Linked DNA regions of Homo sapiens: regions 2, 3, 4, 5 and 6 are each reported to be linked to region 1. Evidence: microRNA targets listed by miRTarBase, many of them from high-throughput screens and not tested one by one. Region 1 holds a microRNA gene; each other region holds the end of a gene's coding sequence.

Region 1 (4,103 bases):
CAGGAGGTCAGGAGGCCAGGTGGGCTTTATCACTTGGGGGCAAGGAGCCCTTCAAGAGCAGGGGATTGTGTAGGGAACGTGAGCACTGTGCGAGGAGCCTTCCCACACCCAGGCAGTGACAGAAGAGTGTGGTCATGGTGGCCGGTGGCGCTGGGGGATTTATTCCAGGGAAGGCAAGCTTCCCAGCTTAACAGCCTGGGCAATCCCACCAGGGGGTGCTGCCCCCAGGCTAGGCAGCCCCCCAGCCTCAGGCAGGGTCCAGGGATGAGAGCGCCTTTCTTTAAATATCACCAGGCAGTGACTAAAGCATCCCCCTTATTCCCCAGAGACAGAGCCCGCAATGCACCTTCCCAGGGGGCCTGCCCACAACTTCCTGGGAGGAGGTCAGTGGTGCCCACCAGGCAGGACTGGGCTTGGAAACCGAGTTGGCCCAACCTCGCCTAGTCCTCCCTTCCATCCACCCATCCAGCCTACGGTGTTCAAACAGTCCTGGGCCAGGCTCTGCAGGAACCTGGGACGTCAGTGGCTCGTGACTCCACAGGCAACTGTCCCACTCCACTGCTTGCCTGGCCTAGGGCTAGACTCGAACAGATGCAAGAAAGATGGAGACCAGCTCGTCCAGGGCATCTTGAGGGTTCTGGGGTGCCACGGGCACTGAGGACGGAAATTAGTTGGGATCAGATTGTGGGAGCTTAAAACGCCAGGCCACTAGATTGGCCGCCACTGAGGAGAGGACAGGAGGCTTTTAAACCTTCAAGGCTGAGCCACCAAAGGAAAGATTGGCATTGAGGGTGTCAAGACAACAGAGCCAGGACTCTAGCCTGGGCCTCTGGACTCCCTGTCCAGTGCTGTCTCCCTGCTGTGGCCTCTCAGGCCCCTAGCGCCCTCCATGGCCTTTTCTCCTGCAGATCCAGAGAAATGCCTACTCCATCTTCTTTGATGAGAAGTTCTCCATCCCCCTGGATCCCACAGCCCTGGAGGAGAAGAGCCTGCGGTTTTCTGTATTTGGCATCGATGAGGATGAGCGCAACGTCAGCACGGGGGTGGTGGAGCTGAAGCTTTCTGTGCTTGACCTCCCGCTGCAGCCCTTCAGTGGCTGGCTCTATTTACAGGACCAGAACAAGGTAAGTGACTTGCCTGCTCGTCCACCTCGGAAGAGCGTGCACACACATACACTTCCAGGAAGGGACTCCATCATCCTCATCATCCTCTGCAATAGCCTGAGCCCCATCATCATTAGGAGAGCAGAGAAGAAGACCTGAGCCACATCCGAGGAAACTGCTTGCTGCAGGCAAATTTCAAAAACATCCCGACCACTGTTTACAGCTCGTCTGCTGCTTTGCCACCAAAGCTTCAGAGGTTCTACCCCTACTGAGCTTCTGCTAGAGAAACATTCCTCTAGCCTTAGAGGGGATGATTTCAGACAGACACCAAGCTGCACTTTAGTTTTATAATTGTAGGAATGCTCACAGAACATCATTGTTGTTTAATCAAAGAATCTAATTCCATTCCACTCTGATCGCTGTGTATTACTACCGCAGTGTTTTCCTTGGCCTGCAATGAGGGAACGAAACTACATTTGATAGCTACATTTGACAGGCCGCCTCTGACCCTCCGCCCCAGGCAGGACCCTCCCGGTGGAAGGGAGGAGTGGGGCATGCTCCATGCAGTGGCGGGGGGTGGGTGGCTGTCCCTTTCTCCAGGCTGTCCCTGCCTGCCTGGAGCCCTGTGGTAAGGGGCCCCCAGTGCAGCCACTTCTCTATGGAGAAGGAAGCCCCAGCCTTTCCCTGGCAACCAAGGCTTTCCCTGGACCCCTCAAGTCGGGTGGGGAGAAGCCCTCTGAGCCACCTGTCTGTCCCCCAGGCCGCCGATGCTGTGGGGGAGATCCTGCTCTCCCTCAGCTACCTCCCCACAGCCGAGCGCCTCACCGTGGTCGTGGTTAAGGCCAAGAACCTCATCTGGACCAACGACAAGACCACAGCGGGTAAGGCCCAGCCGGCAGCCCGGCTCCTCCACGTAGCTCAGTGGAAGCTGTGGCCCAGCTGCTGTGCTGTGGGCACCCGGAGGCATCGGCAGGTGTGGGACACAGTGCCAAGGTCCCCCTCAGCTTTGCTGAGCCCAGAAGTCATGCAGATGGATAGGGGGTGGCATGGGGACAATTAATCCAGCCGGGGAAACATGAGATCCCTGGAGGGTGGCAGGGGCCCCTGTGAGGGCAGAGTGAAGGGGGTCAGAGTGATGCGGGGGTCTCAGGGCAGGAGGCCGCACTCAGGGCTGGGGGCACTGGGCAGGGAACCAAGGTGGGCATCTGTTCCCTGGAACTGGAATTCATGGTGGAGACTCCATTCCCAGAGACAGGGCAGTATCCCAGACTCCAAAAAGGGACCAGGGCCACGGGGTTGGGGTGGGTGCCAGGCAGGACCCGATGCCTTAGGTCTGCAGGAGTCCCCAGTCCCTCTCAAAGCAGTGACCGTGGAGGCAGCTGTATTCTAGAGAACTGAAGACCAGGGGCTGGGGGAGCCTGATCTATTGGGAGTTGCAAGCCTTGGGGCGGGGGTAGGTGGGGGGGGCAGCTCCAGGCAGGTGCGGCAAGGACACCCCGTGGGCAATAGGTGATGGGCAGACGGCAAGTTGTTATTTCAGAGCCGCACACGGTTGAGTCAGGCTCTGCTGTGCGGGTGCCCGGTGACTCAGGGCTGACGTCTGCACTCGGGCCATTTATAGAAGGAACACGGTGGGGCTGCTGAGTTCCCCAGAGCATCCTAGGAGGGGAGCGCGTGGGCTGTGAGGCAGCTGCCTGAGCACAAAGCCCAGCCCTCACCTGACGTGCTGTGTGAGCCTCAGTTTTCTCATCTGTGAAATGGGAAAAATAATAAAGGACCAATGGCAGGGCTGCAGGAGGTCACAGCAACAGTTAAGCATTGGGGAGTTTGGAGTCGGTGGGTGGAGCCAAACTGGGCAGGGCTGTGGTGAGTGAGTGTGACACTGGCCCTCACCTGTCCGCCTGCCCACAGACCCCTTCGTCAAGGTGTACCTGCTGCAGGATGGGAGGAAGATGAGCAAAAAGAAGACAGCCGTGAAGAGGGATGACCCCAACCCGGTGTTCAACGAAGCCATGATCTTCTCGGTGCCAGCCATTGTGCTCCAGGTGAGGGGGGCTGGGGGATGGGAAGGGGCCAGGTCACCCCAGGGCTCTGGGGCTGCCGCATCTCTCCACCTTCTCTTCTCAGGGCCCCTGCAGGGGTAGTGGTTTGCCTCCAGCCATCACTTTCTAGCAGTTATTGAGTGCCACTGGGGCCAGCCCTAGGGTGGGTGCTGGGGACACAGGCATGGCTTTCTCGGTGCTCACAAGGGACAGGCAGGAGAGTCCCTAATCCACTAAGAGTGTCCTCAGGTGAGGGGGGATTCCTGCAGGAGGGGATACCCAGCTCTGAGGGAGGACCATTCCTGGTGGAGGGAACTGCAGAGGGTTGGAGAGGAGCTGGGGTGAGCCAGGCACCCAGAGTTCCTGCTCTGAATCTCCCAAGCTCCATTTCAGGGTTCTGCTGAACTCCCCAGGTTCGCGTGGTCTTCAGAAGGTGACATGCTCCAGGGAGACCTCTCCCAGCAGGGACATCACAGACCACGGGTGGGGCTTGAAGATAGGGCTTGGGCCCTGCTTGCATGCCTCGGAGGATGGGGCTCGCACCACCTTCCCTCACTATCTCTAGCCCTCCTCGGCACTCCTGACAATGAGAAAGTCCTTTGTGCCTTGAGCCAAAACCTGCCTCCATAGCCCCAGGGCTGTACAGAACCCGCCTAATCTCCCCCAACCCGGGGACCCCGCCAGCATGTAAAGGCCCAGAATCTGCCTCACTCTGAGTGTTCCTAACCCGGGCACACCCCAGCATCTCTGGCCCATCCTGGGTATCGTAGCCTTCACCTGCCACCCTCGTGGAGCAGGCTGCCCATGTGTCCTCTGCCTCTCCCTGGGTGTCATAGTGCCACTTCTCCACAGCCTCTAAAAGCAAGAGACTTCTTGGGACCATGGGGGAAGTGGAGGAGGAGAGAGATCGGGCTGGGTTTGAGTTTCAGCTCCCGCTCTCATCTCAAGCAGTCTCTCC
Region 2 (4,000 bases), not on the chromosome of region 1:
AGCTCACTATAACCTTTAACTCTTGGGCTCAAGTGATCCTCCTGCCTCAGCCTTGTGAGTAGCTGGGACTATAGGTGTATACCATTACACCTGGCTGTTTTTTACATTTTAAAATTTTTTTGTAGAGATGAGGTCTCCCTTTGTTGCCCAGGCTGGTCTTGAACTGCTGGGCTCAAGTGATCCTCCTGCCTCGGCCTCTCAAAGTGCTGGGATTATAGGGATAAATCACTGTGCCTGGCCAAAAATGAGTGTATTGCATGTGGTAAGCTTCATGAATTAAATCTAGAAGTTAAACCAATATAACATTGATTATTCAAATATCAATCTGCTTTGTTATAATTAATACTATTCTAATTTTAAATGTCTCCTTCTTTTTCTTTTTGCAGATTCTGTGTCATAAATACCTTATTGGAGTGTTAGCATATTTGACAGAACTGGCAATTTTTCAAATTGAGTGAAGCCTTATGTGGACTATAAGTTATAGATTATATACTCTTATTGATAACTTGCCTAATTGCTATGCTGAAAGAGACTGCAGGAGAAATAGGCATCTATCTCTGCATCTGTTTTCCCCACCATGCCTTTGGAGTTGCCAAGATGGAAGCCAAGAAGGATCTAGAAGAACAAAGAATATGGTAGTAGATGAGCCACAGCCAGGTGCCCATGTACTAATCATGATAACCTGACATGCCATTCTCAAAATGCTGAGTTGTTAATTTCTTGTCATCTTTAAATATATATATATAGGCTGGGCTTGGTGGCTCACACCTGTAATTCCAGCACTTTGGGAGGCTGAGGTGGGTGGATCATTTGAGGCCAGGAATTCAAGACCAGCCTGGCCAACATGGTGAAACCCCTTCTCTACTGAAAATACAATAATTAGCTGGGCGTGGTGGCACATGCCTATGATCCCAGCTACTGGGGAGGCTGAGGCAGGAGAATCGTTTTAACCCAGAAGACAGGCTGCAGTGAGCCAAGACTGCACCACTGCACTCCAGCCTGGGCAACAAAGTGAGACTCTGCCTCAAAAAATAAAAAAGAAATAAAATAAATAAATACAGCGTTTATTATGTTTAAACTCTTAGGATTCAAATGAGATGTATCTAATGGATATTTCTGATTTGGGTCTTTAAAACCTTTAATCTCTTTTAAGCATTTTAGACTTGCATTCAGAAAGAATTCTGTCTTCTAAAGACATTTTCCTAGCATTTCACTGCGGAGAACTGGCAATCAAAATCCCCTCAAAAGGGAACTAAAGATTAATATACACATTTTTTTAGTCATTAATATGCTTCTGTTTTAAATACAGTTCAACTCCTGTTGCAATGTTGAATTAAATGTTTATTTTAAAATGAAGCAATGTGTTTATCAATGTCTCGACATCTTTTAATTAATATCTCAGTAGTGGAAATTGGTAGGCTTTTTCTGTTAACACAGAGGGTACAGACTAACAATTATATAGAATCTTACAAATTGTAGAGTTGAAAGGCACCTGTGAGCCCCTTTTGAGGTCAGAAATTATCTTATTTAACCTTCATGTCCCAGTTTAGCATAATGCTTGGTAAATATCTATAGATTAAATCAATTTTAATCAACTCTTTCTTTTTACAGATGAAAACTGTGAGATCGAGGAACTTAAGAGTCTTGCCCATGATGTTTTATCCAAATCTCTTCTTTTTACTTACTGAGCATAAGATTTTCTTTTACTTTAGGAATAATTTTTTAAAAATCTTGATTGAAAGAAAATTATTAGGCTGTCATTCTCAAAAAAACAAAGATTGACTACTGGAATGGGATATTATTTCAGATGTACTAGGAGCAGTAGATGTAATGGGAAAAGCATGGGCTTTGGAGTCAGACATTCATCCATTCAACTAATCTTAAACTCCTACCATGTGCTTAGAATTGTACTGCATAATAGGAATATAGCAGTGAAGAAGTGAAAAAAGGTCTTTGTTCTGAGGAAATTATATTTTAGTGAAATAAGGCAAAAGGTTAATAATTTCAGATGGAGACAAATGCTATGAAGAAAATAAGGCAGTGCAATATGAAAAAGGGTGACTGGGGTGGGGCCTACCTTTCATACAGTAGTCAAAGAAGGTCTGTCTGAGGAAGTGACCTTTTGAACTGAGTCCTGAATGATGAGTTGGAACCAGCCATGTGAAGATCTGAGGAAGGGTGTGCTAGGCAGGAGAAACCTTGAGATAGGTAAGAGTTTGGCTGCTTTGAAGAACAAAGGAAGTTTTTTGGCTAGAGCATAGTGAATAAGGGTGTATGGCCTATTATGAGCTGAAACTGAATAGGTTGTGCAGCAAAGACTTCTTCCATGGCATAAAATGTCCCAATTTTTGGCTAGGGCACCTGGCTGCCCAGAATAAAGATGATATTTTCCAGCCTTCCTCGTAGGTAGGTATAGTCATATGAATATGTTCTGATTTGGGATACAAATTGAAGTGTCATATAGAGCTTCCAGAAATCTTACCTATAATAAAAAACAACTGGCATGTACCCCTTCCCCCTTTTCTTACTTTTCCCTTCTTCCAACTTTGCTGCCTGGAACATTGATATTATGACTAGTACTATAGCTATTCTCTTAGGTCTTGGGGTTGAGGAACAAGTCCTAGGGATGACAGAGCATGGCCTGGGAGGAGCTTGTGCCCTGAGGTTTTCTTGAAGGTGAACTCCAGTGCCAGCCTTGGGCAGTCTTCCTCTAGACTTACTTGTCAGAGAAGTAAACTTCTCTCTTGTTTTAGCTGTTGTCATTTTGGGTCTTTCTTGCTCATAGTCAAACTTAATCCTAACTTGATACAGAGGCAGGAGCTCTATCATCTAAGTTTTTATAGTGTGAAGAGATTGGATTTTATTCTAAATGCAATGGGAAGCCACTGAAAGATTTTAAGTAAGAGAGTAATATGATTCAATTAGTATTTTATAGGATTTTATAAGATATGAGGGAGAATGGGTGTAGGTAGACAAGAGTGGAAGAAGGGAAACAGTTAAAAGGTTATTGCAAATGATAAAACCCTAATGGAGAAGAAGTTAGCAATATTAAACAAAACTATGTGTGCAGTCACCCTTTGATTAGCAATTCCACTTCTAGGATTCTGTCCCAAAAATTCACTGGCAAAAAAATATGAAATGAAGCATGTACAAGGTTACTTATTACAATAGTATTTGTAATAGCAAGACTAAAAACAACTCAGATGCTCATCAGGCCTGGTATAGCTGCAAAATGAATTACTACTATGCAGCTATAAAAAGGATTGGGGAAGATATCTCTTTACTCCCATGGAGTGATCTCCAAGATGTACTGTTATGTGAAAGAGCAATGTATGTGGACAGAATGTAGAGTATTGTACTTTTTATGTAAGGAATGAGGGAGATATGAGTGTATTTCCTTATGCTTTCAAAAAACAATGAAAGGATAAACCACAAACTTATAACTGTATTTACTTATAGGGAGAAGGAAGGAACAGAGTAGAGGGGACAGGAATGAAAGTTAAGATTTACCTGAATGTTCCTTTTTAATAGTTTAGAACCATGTAAGTGTTTTGTATAATTATGAAAGAAAATTAGAACAAAAGGAAAAAACAAAGCAATCCTTAGCAATTAAAAAAAAATGAGCCTAACTGTATTAAGTTCATGGCATAATCACACAAGTTTTTTTATTCTTTTTTGAGACACGGTCTTGCTCTGTTGTCCAGGCTAGAGTGCAGTGGCACAATCACAGTTCACTGCAGCCTTGACCTCCCTGGCCCAAACAATCCTCCAAACTCAGCCTTCCAAGTAGCTGAGACCACAGGCATATTGCCACCAAGCCTGGCTAATTTTTTAATTTTTGTAGAGATGAGGTCTCCCTATGTTGTTCAAGCTGTTCTCCTGGGCTCAAGCGATCCTCCTGCATTGGCCTCCCAAAGTGCTGGTATTACAGGCATGAGCCACTGTTCCCAGCCCACACAAATTTTTTTCAGTATCTATTTTAATTTAATTTACTTTTATT
Region 3 (4,103 bases), not on the chromosome of region 1:
CAGATGTTTTGGGCCAAGGACCAGGTTTAGAATGAGAATTGCTAACAGTTTTAGGAGGATTTTCAAATGGTCCTCATGGCCGAAAGTTTTAGAGAGCTTTAGGTGTGCCGTTTGCAAAAGAGAGAAGATGTGTAGGCAACATTTGTAGAAAAGGTGGCTTCTCATAGTTAAATGACAGAAACTCTTCCAAATTAATGCCGTAAACAGCTGGTGGGAATAGGATTTGCTCCAGCTATGTGCGAGCATAGCCCGGTCATGGCTGGTAAAATTTAAATTACACACAGGCTTTGTTCCAGAAATTTTGCACGTGTGAATCTATTCCACAGAAACAGAAGTACCAGACTGCAATGTAGTATGTACAAGGATGTTTATTGTTTGCAGTGGCAAAAAACTGGAAATAATCTGAAGGCCCATCAACAAGGCAATGATTCAATCAATCATGATACATCTGTATTAAGTGAGATTACGTAGCAATCCAAAAGAATGAGTCAGCTATCTAGATAGCTGTTGTTCCAAAGAGTTTCATGATGCAATGTTAAGTTAGGGAAGCCAAATTGCAGATGAATAAATATTTTACATACATAGTATTTTTAAAAGGCATAATCAAGTTAAAAAGCCCTCACTTGTGTATCTGAGCACAGTTAAGGTGGAGCCTACATCTCAGGCTGGAAGGAGGGGACAGGACGGGGGAAAATGGGTGGGGAGGAAAGAAAACAAAGAGTAGGCAGGGCGTGGTGGCTCACACCTGTAATCCCAGCACTTTGGGAGGCCGAGGCAGGTGGATCACCTGATGTCAGGAGTTCGAGACCAGCCTGGCCAACATGGCAAAACACTGTCTCTACTAAAAATACAAAAAAATTTGCAGGGCTTGGTGGTGGGCACCTGTAATCCCACCTACTTGGGAGGATGAGGCATGAGAATCGCTTAAGCCTGGAAGGTGGAGGTTGTAGTGAGCCAAGATCACGCCACTGCACTCCAGCCTGGGCAACAGAATGAGACTCTGCCTCAAAAAAAAAAGTATAGAAAAATGAGTAGAAAGCATTGAATTAAGTTAAGTAAAAATTTAGAATATAAAAGCTCACTTTTTTATTGCAAATATGAATGTTTACATACGCAAATGCTTAAGAACTAGGAAAGTGCAGGGGAAACAGCAAACACTGACTCAATCAGATGCTGGGATTGTTGTATTATTTTGGTCTGGAATATCTGTTGTAATTTTCATGTCACTTTTACAATAAACTTATATTTTAAAAAGTCAACACTTAGCAGGGGCTACGAAAGCAACGGTTGGCAAAATTATGCACACTGCAAAATGACGATATCCAGAATAATTCAGAAGCCCCTCCCAATGTCTCGCACATAGTAGGCACCCCATTGCCCCTTTGCTAAAGTGAAAAACTAAACTCAGCCTTTATTCCACCCCATGATTCATCAACTTGAGCAAGAATGTTCAGGCACACACGCGTTCGATTAAAAGCCCCATAAACAAATTTTGCATTTGAATCACCATATACACATTCACGTCATGCCCCACTGAAATCTGGTTGCCGGGACTATTAACAGAATGAGAAAAGGCAGCAATTACAGAAAATGAACGACATCATGGCCTAAGCGTTTTCACATCAGAAATGAAGTCATTTGGCTGACGTGGCTGCACGTGCTGTTGTAATTAAACTTAGGAGAGCGAGGAAGTGAAATGTCAGTGTCAGCCTCTGAGTACTTTCTCTTTCTTTCTCTCTTGCCATGGTTATTATTTTTTTAATTAGAAAGCAGGAAATAACCGTAGAGGATATGTTCTGTACTTTTTTCTTGCTCTCTGATCTAGAATTAACAGGACCGTGGAAGCAGAAGGCGAGTGTAGCTCTGGCAGTGACGTGAACCCCAGTCCTGGCTGCAGGGTGGACGTCTCCTCCATGTGCCCAGTGTAAGGCTGTTTCTTTGTGCTGCTCTGCCCCCAAGTCCTCCGCTCACTTTCAATGTTAAAACCTTCCAAATGTGTCCTTGAGAAGAACACTGATAGCTGAGGGGACTCAGCACAAGAGGTGCCCTCATCAGCACTCATGTTCTGCAATGCTTTGGATAAATTGTCTGATAAAATGCATGTTCCCCCCTTACAAACTCTCTTTAAAGGAGAAATGATAATATTCAGTGGCTGTTTTCTCCAAATATAGTTCAACAACTCCTGGGAGTCTCTGAGAGTGGCCTGGAGCGCCTGTAGGAGCCTCTTAGAGCATTCAATTCATTGTTTTAAATTTAAAACAGATCTTAAACATTACTCATATTGTGTTATATATATTTTTAGCTAATAAGGTGGTGTATCAACTCCTGCTTATGGCATGGATTGCATTCTTTATTGGGTCTCCCTAAAGACACAGCTTTATTTTTTAAAGCTTTTTGGTGAGTAATTGTATTTTTGTAGTGACAAGTGGTTTACAGAGATGATGGCCTTCATTAGGCTGTCTTGAAAGAAATGAGAGACTTTGCATAGAACACAGATGTAAAGGGATTATATTTAAAGATACTCATATGAGTGCACATAAAACATGCATGTAGGGTTAGGGGAACATTAGAAGCAAATATGCCACTAACATTTTGTTTTTCTTAAATACATGCAATGTTTCAGGGATGGGAACAGCAAGCACTTACCCTTCTTTTGAAAAAAAAAAAAAAAAAATTGAATCCCAGCACTATGGGAGGCCCAGGTGGGTGGATCACCTGAGGTCAGGAGTTCAAGACCAGCCTGGCCAACATGGTGAAACCCTGTCTCTACTAAAAATACAAAATTAGTCAGGCATGATGGCACACACCTGTAATCCCAGCTACTCGGAAGGCTGAGACAGGAAAAGTGCTTGAGCCTGGGAGGCAGAGGCTGCAGTGAGCCAAAATCATGCCGTTGCACTCCAGCCTGGGCAACAAGAGTAAAACTCCATCTAAAAAAAAAAAAAAAAGAGAAAGAAAATCTTCATGCCACAGGCACATCCTGCTGTATATGTGGTCTGCTCTGGGAATCAGCTTCCAATAACATTTCCTTACAGTATGATTTCTGGGCCTTTGTCTAGCTTTACTTGTATTTTAGTTTAATTCCTTTAATCTATTTTAGTTTAGTTAGAAGGATTAAAATAGCCTCCATGTACCAGTCAAAGTACACAGCCACCAGCTCAGGTGTTTTCATTTATTTCTAAACATGGAGCTTTCACAATTTCATTAGAGATACATGTTTGGATGTGGGTCCCTGTGAGACATAAAGTGATCACCAGACAGCTCTGGAATTGGACAGAGCAGAAAACCTGGGGTTAGACAAGCCAGGGTTGAATCCTGGCTCTGCCACTTTCTAGCTGGTGATGCTGGGTGCAGTACTTCAGCTCTCTGGGCCTCAGTTTCCTTATCTGTAAAACGGGAATACACCTACCTCTAAGAGTTGTTGGGAAGTACTGTGAAGCAGGTGGCGCAGTGCCTGATGTGTTCTTCTCATCAAGCATTTACTACTAATCTAGTGTGCCAGACGCTCTGCTAGGGGCTGAGAATGGAGTGACGGAGAAGCCACAGTCCCCCATCTATCAGAACGCAGGCACATACCAGGGCGCATACGTGAGAGCGGCATTTGCAGTGCGAGTGCATCGCCGCTCCTGGGCACCTTCAGAACACGCGTGGGTTTGGGGGAGAAGAGCTGGGTCACTTGCCAGGATTTGCTCGCTGCTGCACTCTGTACTGCCAGCCTCCTGGCAAGCTTATTTCACCGTGAGCCAGATCAAAGCCAGAAGGCAGAGGAGCACTGGCTGGTGCATGGTGACCCGAAGTCCTGCGCCCCTCTCCAACCAAAACTCGCAATGCTTGAGGGAGCAGAGCTCCTGGACCAGCCGCCAGAGCACCTGCTGGTGGAGCTTGTTGTCTGGCTTCTGGAACTCCCCCTGGTTCGCCGCCTGGGTGGCATTGATGCAGCCGGTGACAAATGCCTCCTTGGTCACATTAGCCTCAGAGCAGCCGTTGTAGTGGATGCCATCGGGGAACTGCCAGTAGTTGGCCTCGTAGTACCTGTTGCCCTCGGCTCCGAAGTCAATGTCGAGCTTGCGGCCTTGCTTGATGAAGGCTCCCGGGCGGTTCTC
Region 4 (4,103 bases), not on the chromosome of region 1:
GCAGTGAGCCATGATCGTAACACTGCACTCCAGCCTGGGTCACAGAGTGAGACCCAATCTCAAAAAAAAAAAAAAAAATGGATAAACATTAAATCATCAAATATCTTACTTTGTTACTAAGCTAGAAAGTAGATGATTGTATTTTATGTTTGTTTCCACAGTAATTGTTGAAATAAAGGTTTCTCAGTTACTTCTTGGGTTAGCTGAGAGTGAGTAGCATAGAACACTGTTTCCAAGGCTCTGGATGCTGTTGCTGCCTAGTAGATGTCCTGTGGTGATAGAAATGCTCCAGCCTGCAGCGTCCCAGAGAGTAGCCACTAGCCACATGTCAGTTCATGCTTTTAAGGCTATATGTGCCTAGTGGCTGCTGTCTGGGATGGTGCAGCTCCACAGTTTTCTCTAATGGTGTTCAGGTACACTGAAATTAGGAATTTTTAATATTTTAACACATTACTTTGTTACAAAAAAACTTCTCACTTTGAATGCATGTTTTTTCTCATGAAACTTTTAATATTCCCTGAGCTTTTCTCCCCTCAAATTTCTAAAACTTTCTGTCCTTAGTGTCAGTAGAAAAAAAAGTCCAATAGACATATTTGTTCGTTTATCTTTAATTTGGAGCCAGCAAAAGGATGTGATTCTGAACCACGTGTTGTGTCTGCAGGAATTCAACTGAAAAAGGTGCAGGAGCAGCGGGAGCAGGAGGCCAAGCGGGAGCCAGTGGGGAATGACGTGGCCACGATCCTGTCCCGGCGCATTGCCGTGGAGTACAGCGACTCTGACGACGACTCAGAGTTCGACGAGAACGACTGGTCCGACTGAGCAAAGGCCGGCGGAGAGGCCGCGTGTGGGAGCGTGTTGAAGATTTTAAGTGGTCTCTACACCCAAATAGTGGTATTCTAATCCCGTAGCATAGCACCTTTTGTATAAACAATGTGATATTGCTTCTGCACATCCAAAAATTCTGGGTCTTTTCAGTATTTACTGTGTAATACTTAAGTGCCACTAAACATAGCAAATTGTGCTGCACATGAGGAAATAGGCTGTCACTATCACATTGTCCTGAAAACAGCATCTGCTTTCCTCTTGGCCATGAGAGTATTTAGTGCAGTTTGGGTTTACTCTTACTGATCAATATAACTCTGCAGACTTGCTGTGTGTTTGTGAAGCTGCCTGGTGTTAGGTCTCTGCAAGACTAATGACTATGTCAGAGTGATGTCTTCCAACCAGTAAGTGATATTGTTTCACCGCTTTGGTTTTTCCTTTTGTTTTTTTAAAGGATGTGTTTCTGAATAAGTTGGTTTTAGAGGGAAAGGTTCAACAAACAGGGAGAATCCAGTGTTTCTGCTTTCAGTTTCTTGGCTTGGTAGCCTCTGAGTGAATCTGATGCTCTGCTGAATAATTTCATTACCTCTGCACATGCCTGTCAAATATGAAATTGGAAGGGCCCTTTTCAGGCTGGGTTCCCTGTGGGCATTTGCTTAGTAAATGCCTGTTGATGGTTTTTGCAAGAGAATTCAGCAGCTCAACAGTAATGAAAGTGAAGAACAGAGTCCATTTTCCTTCCTGGGGCCATTGGGGATGACACTCAAGATACTTGCCAGTCTCTCCAGTGTGGGCACCAGCCGGCCAGAACAGATGCGAGCAGTCCATGACTCTGGGAGCTACACCGCTGAGCTGGGCAGAGCTGCGGCACAGGGCCTGGGCTGCAAAGGAGCCCTGCTCCTTTAGTTTCCTGACACCTGTGTCCTGAGTGAGCCGCAGGAGTTCTTAGCTCCTCAGCGAGCAACAGAGAGCACTTTAGATGGCACCTTTCACCACTTGGTCAGAATTTTAAAAGCTTAGGTTTAGGTGAAAGTAGATATTGACAGCTATTCACCTTTCACGGTGCTGGGGCCAGATTAGGGATCACTCCCGTGAGGAGGGCCTTCACCCTGTTCTAGAAGCACATGGTTGTCCTCCTGTTGTTGGCACATTAAATGATAAAAAGCACCTCATGAGATTCCCTTGATCAGCCCTGCAGCTGTAGTACAGTGCTGTGCCCTCACCTCCACCCTTCCTGTTGTTCCCACGTGGGCAATACCAGGGACCCATGGGGAAACTCAAGAATGACAGCTTCTATATTTTGTAATTCTGGATGAAAGATAACTGTGTTGAACAAACAGGTGCTCCAGGCTTTGATTATAGATACGACTTCAAAAATATGCTAAGACGCTTGACTTATTAAGGACTTTAACCTACTCAACAGTATTTCATATCCATTGTGGTTAGTTACTCAGTTATGTTGAGAAGAATCTGGAGCTAAAAGCAGAGATGTTTGAGGTGACGGTAGGAATGTGAGCAGGATGGTGATGGGGGTTTTTGTTAAAATGCATCTGAGCAAGTCAGCCAGCCCCGAAGTCCCCTCAGTGTGTGTGTCTCGAGTGGCTACCTGTTGGGCTTGTGGGCAGTGATTGTACAGAGCCTGTCCATTGGGTGCAGTCATGTAGATCTGAAGCCCTGAAAAGCCTCATGTCTGCATCCCCTTTCCAAGGCTGCTTCCCTGGTGTGTCTGTTCTCTCCTCTGTCCCAGGTGCTGGGAGCGTCCTCTTCAGCGTCTTTTCCTAGAGCTGGTCACCACTAGGCTGTCACTATAAATTCCTTGAATATAAGTAACAGTTATTAATGAACTTCTAAATTTCTAATTTCTCTCTCTCTCTCTTTTTTTTTTTTTTGTTGTTGTTAAAAAGGGCCTACTACATTGGCGCTATTCTTAGGACTTCTGCAACTTTTAAAGTCTTACTTGTCTTTCTTGTTGCTTTTGTATTAGGAGTTCCCCGTGTGGGTCTAGAACTCCCCTTTGGTAATGCTTCTTTGTTTTTTTATGGCCCTTCTGTTCTCAGGATGGAGAGAACACAGAAGCTACTATCCATGTCAGGATTTATTCTATTTATATCTTATTACAATAAAATTAGTGGCACTTTATTCATAAATATTCATGAGCCTGTTAATTGTTAGTTGTCTTCCTGTAGCTGAATCAACAAGTTATTTTCAACTCAATTTTATGACTTGCGAAAAAGCTTTTGCCCTGTTGTGTACCATAACATTTAAAAGAATGGAAAATGACTGAAATCCAATTTAGATTATTTTTAGAGTATTTTTCCAGCAAATTCAATTTATTCTGAAATTTAAATCCAGATCTTTTCTAATATGGTATTACAATGAAAAGAATAAAGAGAAGATTTGAATTTTCAGTTTCATTTTCAAAAACTATTTACCAAAACAAATGGAGAAGAAACATCCAAAAGCACATTTCATTTCTCCAAACTTTGTGTTTTAAATTATAGTTATAAATTGTAAGGTAATTTTAAATTGTCCCTCGTATTATTTCTCCACGTCTGTTTTAGTTTAATGTCTCCTAAGCTTTTCTCTCATAGCGTAGACCTAGGGAAGGGATGGGAAGATTGCCCAGTCCCCGATGGCTGCGCACACAGGAGGCGGCGGAGCACAAGGCAAGTGAGTTTGCACTGTCAGCCCCAGACCGTAAGCTTGGCTACACTGATGTTTTTCTTTACTAAGGATACTATTCAAAAATTAACATTTTCATCTCAGTAAGTTTTTAGAACATCAAAATGTTTTCTGAGCTCCAAGTGGCTAGGTTGTAAAAGTTTTATAATAATTTGCAATTAAAATACATGATACATATTAATCCATTAAAGACTAGTGGGAATGTATCAGCCAGAGTAGCAAGTAATTTTTGTTTTATAAATCATAGTATCTGTCATCTTGCAGTATTACCAATGCTGTTGTAAATTGAATTTAAAGTGGTATTAAAAAAAACTGTTAAACAATTTTTATCTGTTTGTATATCTTACTATAGATTATGTACAAGTAACATCTAAATAAAATTACACTTTTAACCCTAAGAGGTTTTGCTTATTAATAACAGTGTTGTATGTTTGGCTTTTTTGGAAGAGAACTTGGTGTTAAGTGGTTTTTTGTTTTTGCTTTTGTTTAGCATTTTCCTTATTAGACAACAGAAGACACTACTTTGGTTTCCATTTAAATTTCTACATAATTTTTGTGTCACCAAGAGTTCAGATTGAATTCCTGAATGACTCGGGGCA
Region 5 (4,103 bases), not on the chromosome of region 1:
GTGGTGCGATCTCGGCTCACTGCAAGTTCCGCCTCCCGGGTTCACACCATTCTCCCGCTTCAGCCTCCCAAGTAGCTGGGACTACAGGCGCCCGCCACCACACCCGGCTAATTCTTTGTATTTTTAGTAGAAACGGGGTTTCACCGTGTCAGCCAGGATGGTCTCGATCTCCTGATCTCGTGATCCACCCACCTCGGCCTCCCAGAGTGCTGGGATTACAGGCGTGAGCCACCGCGCCCGGCCTATTATTTTTTTAAGATGACGTCTCACTCTGTCACCAGGCTGGAGTGCAGTGGCGCAATCTCGGCTCATTGCAACCTCTGCCCCTGGGTTCAAGCCATTCTCCTGCCTCAGCCTCCCAACTAGCTGGGACTACAGGCATGTACCACCACACCCGGCTAATTTTTTGTATTTTTAGTAGAGATGGGGTTTCACCATGTTGGCCAGGATGGTCTCGATCTCTTGACCTCGTGATCCGCTAGCCTTGGCCTCCTAAAGTGCTGGGATTACAGGCGCGGGTGAGCCACCGCGCTGGGCCTTTTTGTTGTTGTTGTTGTTATTATTATTATTATTATTATTATTTTGAGACAGAGTCTCACTCCGTCACCCAGGCTGGAGTCCAGTGGTGCGATCTCGGCTCACTGCAACCTCTGCCTCCCAGGTTCAAGCGATTCTCCTGCCTCACCCTCCCAAGTAGCTGGGACTACAGGTGCATGACACCACACCTGGCTAATTTTTTTTTTTTTTTTTTTGAGATGGGGTCTTGCTCTGTCCCCCAGGCTGGAGTTTAGTGGCACGATCTCGGCTCACCGAGATTGGAGTTTCACCATGTTGGCCAGGTCGGTCTCGAACTCCTGACCTCATGATTCACCTGCCTCGGCCTCCCAAAGTGCTGGGATTACAGGCATGAACCACCACGCCCGGCCAATTATGCTATTATTATTATTTTAGAAACAGTCTCACTCTGTCACCCAGGCTGGAGTGCAGTGGTGCCAACACAGCTCACTGCAGCCTTGACATCCTGGGCTCAAGCCATCTTCCCACCTCCGCCTCCTGAGTAGCTGGGACCACAGGAGCATGCCACCATGCCTGGGTCTTTTTTTTTTTTTTTTTTTTTTTTGTAGAGATGAGGGTCTCACTATGTTGCCCAGGCTGGTCTGGAACTCCTGGCCTCAAGTGACCCGCCCGCCTTGGCCTCCCAAAGCGCCGAGATTATAGGGGTGAGCTACCCCACCCGGGCCCTAATCCTGTTATTTTTATTACTGCTATCGTTACACCCAAGTCATTCAAGACCGGGCCTCCATTTCTGGGTCCCAAGCCAGCTGGTGTCTTAGGGCTGCCCTAAGCCATCTTGTCTATCCTGTGTGCCCTCCCAAAAGACCTCCTTTCTCTCCCTCCCCTCCCGCTCTGCCTCAGCCCCTCCCGGGCTTGTCCACTGCCTGGAGAGGCACTGAGGCCCAGAGGCGGCCAGAGGCTGCCCAAGGACTAATGCTGGGTCTCTCTTCCCGTGCCTCCAGAGCACCCATGCGGCACCCCAGGCCCCAGGCTGCCCATCCCACAGCCGTGGGGGCGGCCTGAAGCCTTGAGAGAGGAGACAAACTGAGGCCTGGACACCCCAAAATGGCTTGAGTCTTTATTTCCTTGGTGAGGCAGGGCCCCAGGGTGGGGTGGGCTGCCTGGCTGAGGCTCCTGTAGACCCACCAACCTAGGGGCACTTTTCTGGGCACCACAGGTAAGGCACTGCCTGGGGGCTGGAGGAGGCTGGAGGAGGATGCCCAAGCTCCCCACATTCCTCACCCCAGACCGGGGAAGCTGGATATCCTCCGTGTTGTCCTCTCCCCATAGCTGGTCTGAGGCTGTGGTTTACACGCAGGCACAGGTAGGCGATTCTGAGCATCAACGCAGATGGAGGGGAGGGTGAGCCGTCGTGGGAGAACTGGCCCAAGACCAGCACCTGGCTGGTGTCGCCAGCCCCGGCTGCATTGGTGGGTGAGGCAGGTCTGGCTGGAGTCTGGGTCTGCAGGCCTGGCCGGGGCAGGTTGTGGGGGACCAAGGAGCCCTGGGTGTGAACCCCACTGTGGAGGCAGCAGGCACCTAGTGGTGCCACTGGGACACCCGGCTCCAGGACTCCGGATGTCACACATGCGTGAGTCTTGGCGTCTACACCCCCCTCGGGGCCAGTGGGTGAGCAGTGGCCCGTGGTCCCCGCCAGAGCTCCCCCAGAGTGGACTTGGCTCCGCCGGACACAGTGCCCTGCTCTGAGCTGCCGCTGGCTGCTCCACGTCTGAGACCACGCGACGTTGCCTCATGAACTGACGTGGACAGCAGCAGGGGAGACGCTGGGTGGTTCTGTGGCCAAGCACAGCCCGTGTCAGGAGCACAGGCCGTGCCCTTTCCCAGGGGGCACACTGGGCATTTCTCAATGGCCTTCACAGGACGCAAAGGGGCACACAGAGGCAGTGGGGAAGCTGGAGTTCTTGGGCTGGCAGGGAATGGTGGCAGCCTTCTTGGCCTTCATGAAGGGCCTGGCTTGCTGGGCTAAGGTCACAGTGTTCTGAGGTCCCCACACGCACTCAGACTAGACCCTCCGTACACACCCAGGCTAGACCCTCCATACTCACCCAGGCTAGACCCTCCATACACACCCAGGCTAGACCCTCCATACTCACCCAGGCTAGACCCTCCATACACACCCAGGCTAGACCCTCCATACTCACCCAGGCTAGACCCTCCATACTCACCCAGGCTAGATCCTCCATACACACCCAGGCTAGACCCTCCGTACTCACCCAGGCTAGACCCTCCGTACTCACCCAGGCTAGACCCTCCGTACTCACCCAGGCTAGACCCTCCGTACACACCCAGGCTAGACCCTCCGTACACACCCAGACTAGAGGCTTGGGGCTGAGAAAAGCAGTCATGCCTCTTCAGGAATTACCAGCAGAGAATGCCCAGCCCTCTTGATAGTAGCAATAATTAATAGGTTTATCCCCAAAGGAGCGGAAGTGTGGAATCCTCCCCGGCAATAGGTCTTAGGGTAGGGGCTGGGGCATCCTAGAGAAGGGCCCTAAATCAGGCGCTCAGTGTCCGGAACGCAGGTCTATCCCACCCACCAGCCGGCCCCCAGGCCTCCCTTCCTCAGTCCTTCCAGGATATCGTCAGGGAGGTTCTGGGATCCCCAAGTGGTCCGAATCCGGGCTCTAAGGAGTGTCCGTGGCATATAAATTAGACTCTGCTGTGGCAATAAATAACAGGGGATGATGGGGGGCCTCGGGCACCAGGCCCAGGCCTGTCCTGCAGGCTCACACGAAGTTCTCTTCCTCTTCTGCAGACTCACCACCTGGCGGCTCCTCAGGGGTGCCTGCAAGGGTCGATAAGAGCATTGAGGGCGCAGGGCAGGGGGTTCTCCGGCCCCCAGGACAGGCCTGTGCCCCCGCCCTGCGTCTGCACCTGCGCAGCTGCCCGCGTGGCGCACGCCGATGGAGCGGCCCAGGAAGCAGGTGGCCTGGCGCATGTGGCACGAGGAGATGTAGGTGACGTTGTTGTTGCCGCAAAGCTCCTGGCCGGGGCTGGAGGGCACAGGGCAGGGCGCCGCTCGACACACCACGCAGTGGGCGCTGCCCGTCTGGTCCACGACGCACGACTGTGGCCGCGGGCACACCACGTGCTCACAGGACTCTGCAGGCCGGGTGCCAGGGGAAGTTCAGGGGACATCTCGCTGAGAACCCCGCAGGGCTCTTGGCCCCAAGACCCACCCTTAACCCCCAAGATGCGAAAACCCTCTGGTAGGAGACACAAGCACCCCCCCGCCCCCCGTGAGCCCCCCTCTCCATTCCACCCCTCAGGCTCCACCCACAAGCCCTGCCCTTCCCATTGTACCCAGGAGCCACACCTCTTTCGTGAGCTCCTGCCCCTTATGCTACCCAAAGCCCCGCCCCTCCGCGACTGCGGGGCCGCCCACCCAAACTCCACCCACAAATCCCCGCCCATCTCCACCCAGGAACCACGCCCCAGCCAAGAGCCCCGCCCCTTACATGACCCAGTCTCACCCCCCTGGTTCCATCATGCCCCTCTGGTTACACCCACAAGCCCCTCTCTGAGTC
Region 6 (4,103 bases), not on the chromosome of region 1:
AGCTTCTCCCCGCCTGCCTCCCCTGTAGAGCCGGGACAGAAGGCACTGTGGAGTTGGGGGCATGCTGGCTGAGCATGAGTGTGTGCAGGCGTGGGTACGGGCTCATGAAGAGCTGTGTAGTCCACACACATCGTCAGGGTGGCCGTGCTTCGGGCCTAAAGGGCTTCCCGCAGCAGGGAGACGGTGCTCTCACACCAGAGTCTGCCAGCCAGGGGGCTTTCCCTCCCCTGGCTGAGCCTTCCTGTGACCTGAGCTGCCCCCTGCCCATCCAGGGAGCAGGCGGGGATCCCCCTGCGGAAGGACACAAGTGAACCCAGAATGGTGCCTCAAGGCAGGCAGCCTGGCCCAGATGGTGCCCCCACTCCCCAGACCCAACTCTAACCAGGCCTGGCCCTCTCCTGTGTCTTGCAGAACTTCAGCGAGAGGGAAGCATCGAGACTCTGAGTAACAGCTCAGGCTCCACCAGCGGCAGCATACCAAGAAACTTTGATGGCTACCGATCTCCGCTGCCCACCAATGAGAGCCAGCCCCTCAGCCTCTTCCCGACTGGCTTCCCGTAGGTACCAGCAACCTGCTTCTGACTGGCCAGCCCCCTCCCCTGCTGGAGGAGGGGAGAAGCCCCGCTCTGGTCCTACCCTTCAGTCTCTGCTCTTCCTTCATCAACCACCTTCCCCAAGCTTAGTGACAGCAGCCGCCCATCCTACCTGGATGGAGAAGAGACCCTTCTCCAAGCACCTCAGCGCACTTGCCCTCTGCCACACCTGTCGGTGGAGGCTGTGGCCAGGAGAGACTGTAGAAGCTCGGTCCCTGTGTATGTTTGCATATGACATCCTGCATTGGATCCGCTTTTGTATTTTTTAACCATACCCACGGTGGGGCGGGTGGGGGGAGCCTGGAACAGTGACCAGATCTGGGGGCCTGAGTGGGGACAGAGTTGATCGTCCACCTGGCCATTTTGACCCTGAGTGGACAGTCACAGCCTCAGCTCATGTCTGGCTGTGACACACACTGCCCCCAGCTTCCCTTGGTCAGCCCCACTCCAGCACGGGGTGAACGGAGGCCCAGAGTACTAGGGAAGGAGGAAGGGAGGACATGCCTCTTCTTCCTCCTTTCTTTCCCCATCTGTTCATGGGAAGAGTTTGTCTTTCTTATCTTTAAGCCCCTTTACCCTGGTCCTGTACTGATCAGTGAAGGAAACCGTGGTTACTGAGGCCCTGTTGAAAAGTGCACGTCTTGTCCAATAAATCACGCTGCAGTTGGTGTCCATCCCTGAGTTGCTGGGGTAAGGGTCCTCTCCAAATGCTGAGCAGAGTCCTATGGCCTGAGTGCCCAGGATCCCAACACCCCCTTTCATGTGCAACTTGGGGGCAGAAGGAGTCAGTGGAGGATTGGAATGGGAAGAACTTTTGTCCTGGAATTTGGATGGGGCCTGATTTAAGAAGCCCATTCTCTAAGCATCTTGCCTGTTACCAGAGGCAATGAGTTCTTGGGGTGCCACAGGGTTGGACCCTCCTCCCTGGGGATCAGGGCTTGCCATGTGCTGGTGGGTTGCTGTCAAGGGGAGAGTCTGGCAAAGCCTCATCTGGGGGGCACCTTGTTGTAATTGCCTCTTTTTAACTCAGAAGATGGAAGGGTGGTCAGGTGAAGGTGGGTATCTCATGAAACCTGGCCGGAACCCTCAGATGACACGTTCCTGATTTTGTCCCCCCGCCCCACCACCACCACTTCCGGACCTAAAGTAAGTGGCAACAGAGACAGGAACAGGGAGAAAAAATGGTGCATTGAGCAGGAAGGAGACGAATGCTAGTCCTTTGCCCCCTTCCCTGGCCCACACTTCCCAGAGACCCCAGGGAGGCCTTGGAGAATGGAAGGAAACCCACAGAGCCAGGTGTGATTTGGGGTAAAGTTTAATGGAAAAGCCGTGGAAACGTTGAGTTCACAAACAGGACTTCCCGTGCAACTGTCCAGCCAGACCTGGGGCAGCTCCTGGGGACCCTGCCCCCTTCACACACACCCATCCCATCCATGGTGCCTGAGAGGCCTTCATCTTCAGTTCCCTCCACCAGATCAGTTGGGCATGTTGGGGGCAGAGATGGAGGGTTGTTGAATCACACTAGGCTCTGTAAGCTGAGAAGACGATCCTGCACAGGGTGGCATAAGCCAGTCCCTCCTGCCAGGGCACCTGCAGGGCGAGAAGTCACATGCCAGACTGAGGCATGCTTGCGAACACTAGCCTGGCCCCAGCAGCAGGGGGTGCTGGAGGAGCTGCAGCTTTTCCCCATCTTGCTGAATTATTGATGGGCCTGGCACTGCCCCTACCCCCAGCTACAGCCATGTTTCAATCAAAAAGGGACAAGGAGGAGAGTGCTACCAGGCTACCTGTGCATGCTGCCCATGGCCTGTCTTCCTGGGGATGGGTTCAGCTGCCCTAGGAAGCATGAGCCCCTCTGAAACCACCCCAGGACACGTGGATGTGGCAGAGACCTTGCTGCCAGGGGCTCTCTCAACCATTCAGGGAACTGGCTGGCAGCTTACAGAGTCAGGAGTCCTCCCTGGCCCGGCCCTTCCCCTCCAGCAGGGGCAAAACAGCTGTGGCCTCCCCCAGGCAGGGAAAGTGGTGGGTGTAGGGCTGGACTTGCCGGCTGAGCTTGCAGGACAATCTGGTTATTCATCTGCTTGAAGTCAGGGCAACTCTTTGAGTATGTGGGGGAAGGGTGAGGATAAGAGAGACCAGATAAGCTGGCCCCACAGCGGCTGCCACTGGAGCTCAGGTTATCAGAAAGGCCTTGGGCCTGGCCTCCGGCTAATTGGGGAGGTTATGGAGCCTGCCATAGCCTGTAATCAGCTGGAAGGGAGAGCTGGGCCCCAGGGTTGGGGACCTTACTGGCCACTGGCCCCAGAGCAGCCGCTTCCTATCCTCTACAGATAACATCCAGGGCAATCTGGGACTCACCCCCAGCCCCAGCAGACCTAATGGTGGCATCATCTGGGAGGGCATCAGAACATGAATCAAACTGTGGCTGATCAGGGGACCTTTAGGAATCCATGTGACCTACCGATTCTCTCGGCACTACCTGGTCAACGGGCAGCTTTACTACGGACTTCCTCTCAATTTGATGAAGGAAAAATACCTTCATGATCTGGAAAGAGGCCGGTGGGAGCCAGCGTGGCAACTGAAGGAGCAAGAGTACTGTCTGAGATGAGAAAAGGCACGGTGGGCCTGAGGCCAATTCAAGCACACAAGCTCAAACACCAGGGCCAGCCCCTCTGTCAAGGAGCAGAGGCCAGGCTAGGCAGCCACCAGTCTGGAAGTGTATATGGTTTCTCAGTGGTAATTTTTTATTTTCACAATTCAGGGACTCATGAAACTAGAAAGTACCTGAGAGTTCTGTTCGAGCCTCATTTTTTTTGCAGATGACAAGCAAGCCTGAGCCCCAGAGAAGGGCAGGGCCTTGCCCAAGGTCACAAAGTCACACGCCTAGTGAGCCTATCCCTGTCTGCACCTGGCTGCTTCACACCCTGGCCAGTTCCCTTAGAGGGACCCAAATCCGAACTGACCTCCCTGTCCTGTGCCCCTATCCCATCCAGAATGCTGACCCCACTGATCCCCATCCTGACTCCATCAGGCTTCCTGCCTGGGCTGAGAGACTGAATTTGCAGCTGCTCCCTTGCCCCTGTGTAGCTGGAAGGCAGCCCTCCCACTGCAGACCTAGAACTGGAGGCTCTAGAGGCAAAGGGACAGTGCATCCTGTATGTCTCGAATTCAGAGCAAGAGCCCAGGGGAGGGTGGCAGCCCTGGCATCTCAGGATCACCTTGCTGTAGGAGCAGGGGTAGGCAGCTCAGCAGCACCGGCTTCTTAGGAGTGGGTTTGGACTTGCTCTCTTTAAGGTCCCAGGGTCCCATCCCAGCTCTGCCACCAGCAGGTACGTGGCCTTGGGTACATGACTGCACCTCTGGGATTCAGGGTCCTCATGTGTAAAGGAGGGAGTGGAGGGGAGAGAGCAGCATGCCCTTCCGAAGGCGCGACAGAGCAGAAGCAGGCAGAGGGGAAGCTGCGGGTCCACAAGGCAAACCCATGGTTCGAGGGGAAGTTGACAGCCAG

What was found. Region 1 holds the annotated microRNA hsa-miR-6860 (ACUGGGCAGGGCUGUGGUGAGU, at 2,954-2,975, shown strand). A microRNA usually pairs through its seed, bases 2 to 8, with sites in the 3' UTR of a target mRNA and lowers its output. Matches are read on the target gene's strand: a 7mer-m8 pairs with bases 2 to 8, a 7mer-A1 pairs with bases 2 to 7 and ends in A, and an 8mer does both.
Region 2: the mRNA of CENPL is a reported target of hsa-miR-6860. The part of its 3' UTR that is shown has no 7-base or 8-base seed match.
Region 3: the mRNA of PRND is a reported target of hsa-miR-6860. Seed matches in the 3' UTR shown: 7mer-m8 at 3,627-3,633, 7mer-A1 at 3,366-3,372, 7mer-A1 at 3,043-3,049, 7mer-m8 at 2,906-2,912 and 7mer-m8 at 981-987.
Region 4: miRTarBase lists WASF3 as a target of hsa-miR-6860. Seed matches in the 3' UTR shown: 7mer-m8 at 3,442-3,448.
Region 5: the mRNA of FSTL3 is a reported target of hsa-miR-6860. Seed matches in the 3' UTR shown: 7mer-m8 at 2,409-2,415 and 8mer at 1,719-1,726.
Region 6: the mRNA of BCAS3 is a reported target of hsa-miR-6860. Seed matches in the 3' UTR shown: 7mer-A1 at 1,060-1,066.

The regions. Positions count from the first base shown.
Region 1 is chr11:67,042,730-67,046,832 of GRCh38, forward strand. MIR6860 (microRNA 6860) reads left to right here and starts at 2,914; the gene lies at 2,914-2,979. It overlaps SYT12 (synaptotagmin 12), which reads left to right. Exons shown (of 8, transcript NM_177963.4): 5 at 909-1,124; 6 at 1,864-1,984; 7 at 3,015-3,148. RefSeq lists enhancers at 3,367-3,496, 3,597-3,676.
Region 2 is chr1:173,796,906-173,800,905 of GRCh38, reverse strand. CENPL (centromere protein L) reads left to right here. Exons shown (of 6, transcript NM_001387287.1): 6 at 387-1,356. The coding sequence ends at 458. Among named protein-coding and RNA genes, the nearest start is that of DARS2, 26 kb to the left of the region's middle. RefSeq lists a silencer at 2,149-2,349.
Region 3 is chr20:4,724,708-4,728,810 of GRCh38, reverse strand. It overlaps PRND (prion like protein doppel), which reads right to left. Exons shown (of 2, transcript NM_012409.4): 2 at 351-4,103. The coding sequence ends at 3,729. Among named protein-coding and RNA genes, the nearest start is that of PRND, 4.8 kb to the right of the region's middle. RefSeq lists an enhancer at 1,669-1,758.
Region 4 is chr13:26,685,027-26,689,129 of GRCh38, forward strand. It overlaps WASF3 (WASP family member 3), which reads left to right. Exons shown (of 10, transcript NM_006646.6): 10 at 662-3,922. The coding sequence ends at 819. All of the region lies in intron 1 of LOC107984597 (a long non-coding RNA gene), which reads right to left. Among named protein-coding and RNA genes, the nearest start is that of GPR12, 74 kb to the right of the region's middle.
Region 5 is chr19:680,908-685,010 of GRCh38, reverse strand. It overlaps FSTL3 (follistatin like 3), which reads right to left. Exons shown (of 5, transcript NM_005860.3): 4 at 3,451-3,678; 5 at 1,626-3,361. The coding sequence ends at 3,303. Among named protein-coding and RNA genes, the nearest start is that of FSTL3, 6.6 kb to the right of the region's middle. RefSeq lists enhancers at 2,980-3,528, 3,529-4,078 and a silencer at 3,899-3,998.
Region 6 is chr17:61,391,566-61,395,668 of GRCh38, forward strand. BCAS3 (BCAS3 microtubule associated cell migration factor) reads left to right here. Exons shown (of 24, transcript NM_017679.5): 24 at 412-1,266. The coding sequence ends at 560. TBX2-AS1 (TBX2 antisense RNA 1) reads right to left here. Exons shown (of 2, transcript NR_125751.1): 2 at 1,891-2,182. Among named protein-coding and RNA genes, the nearest start is that of TBX2-AS1, 6.0 kb to the right of the region's middle.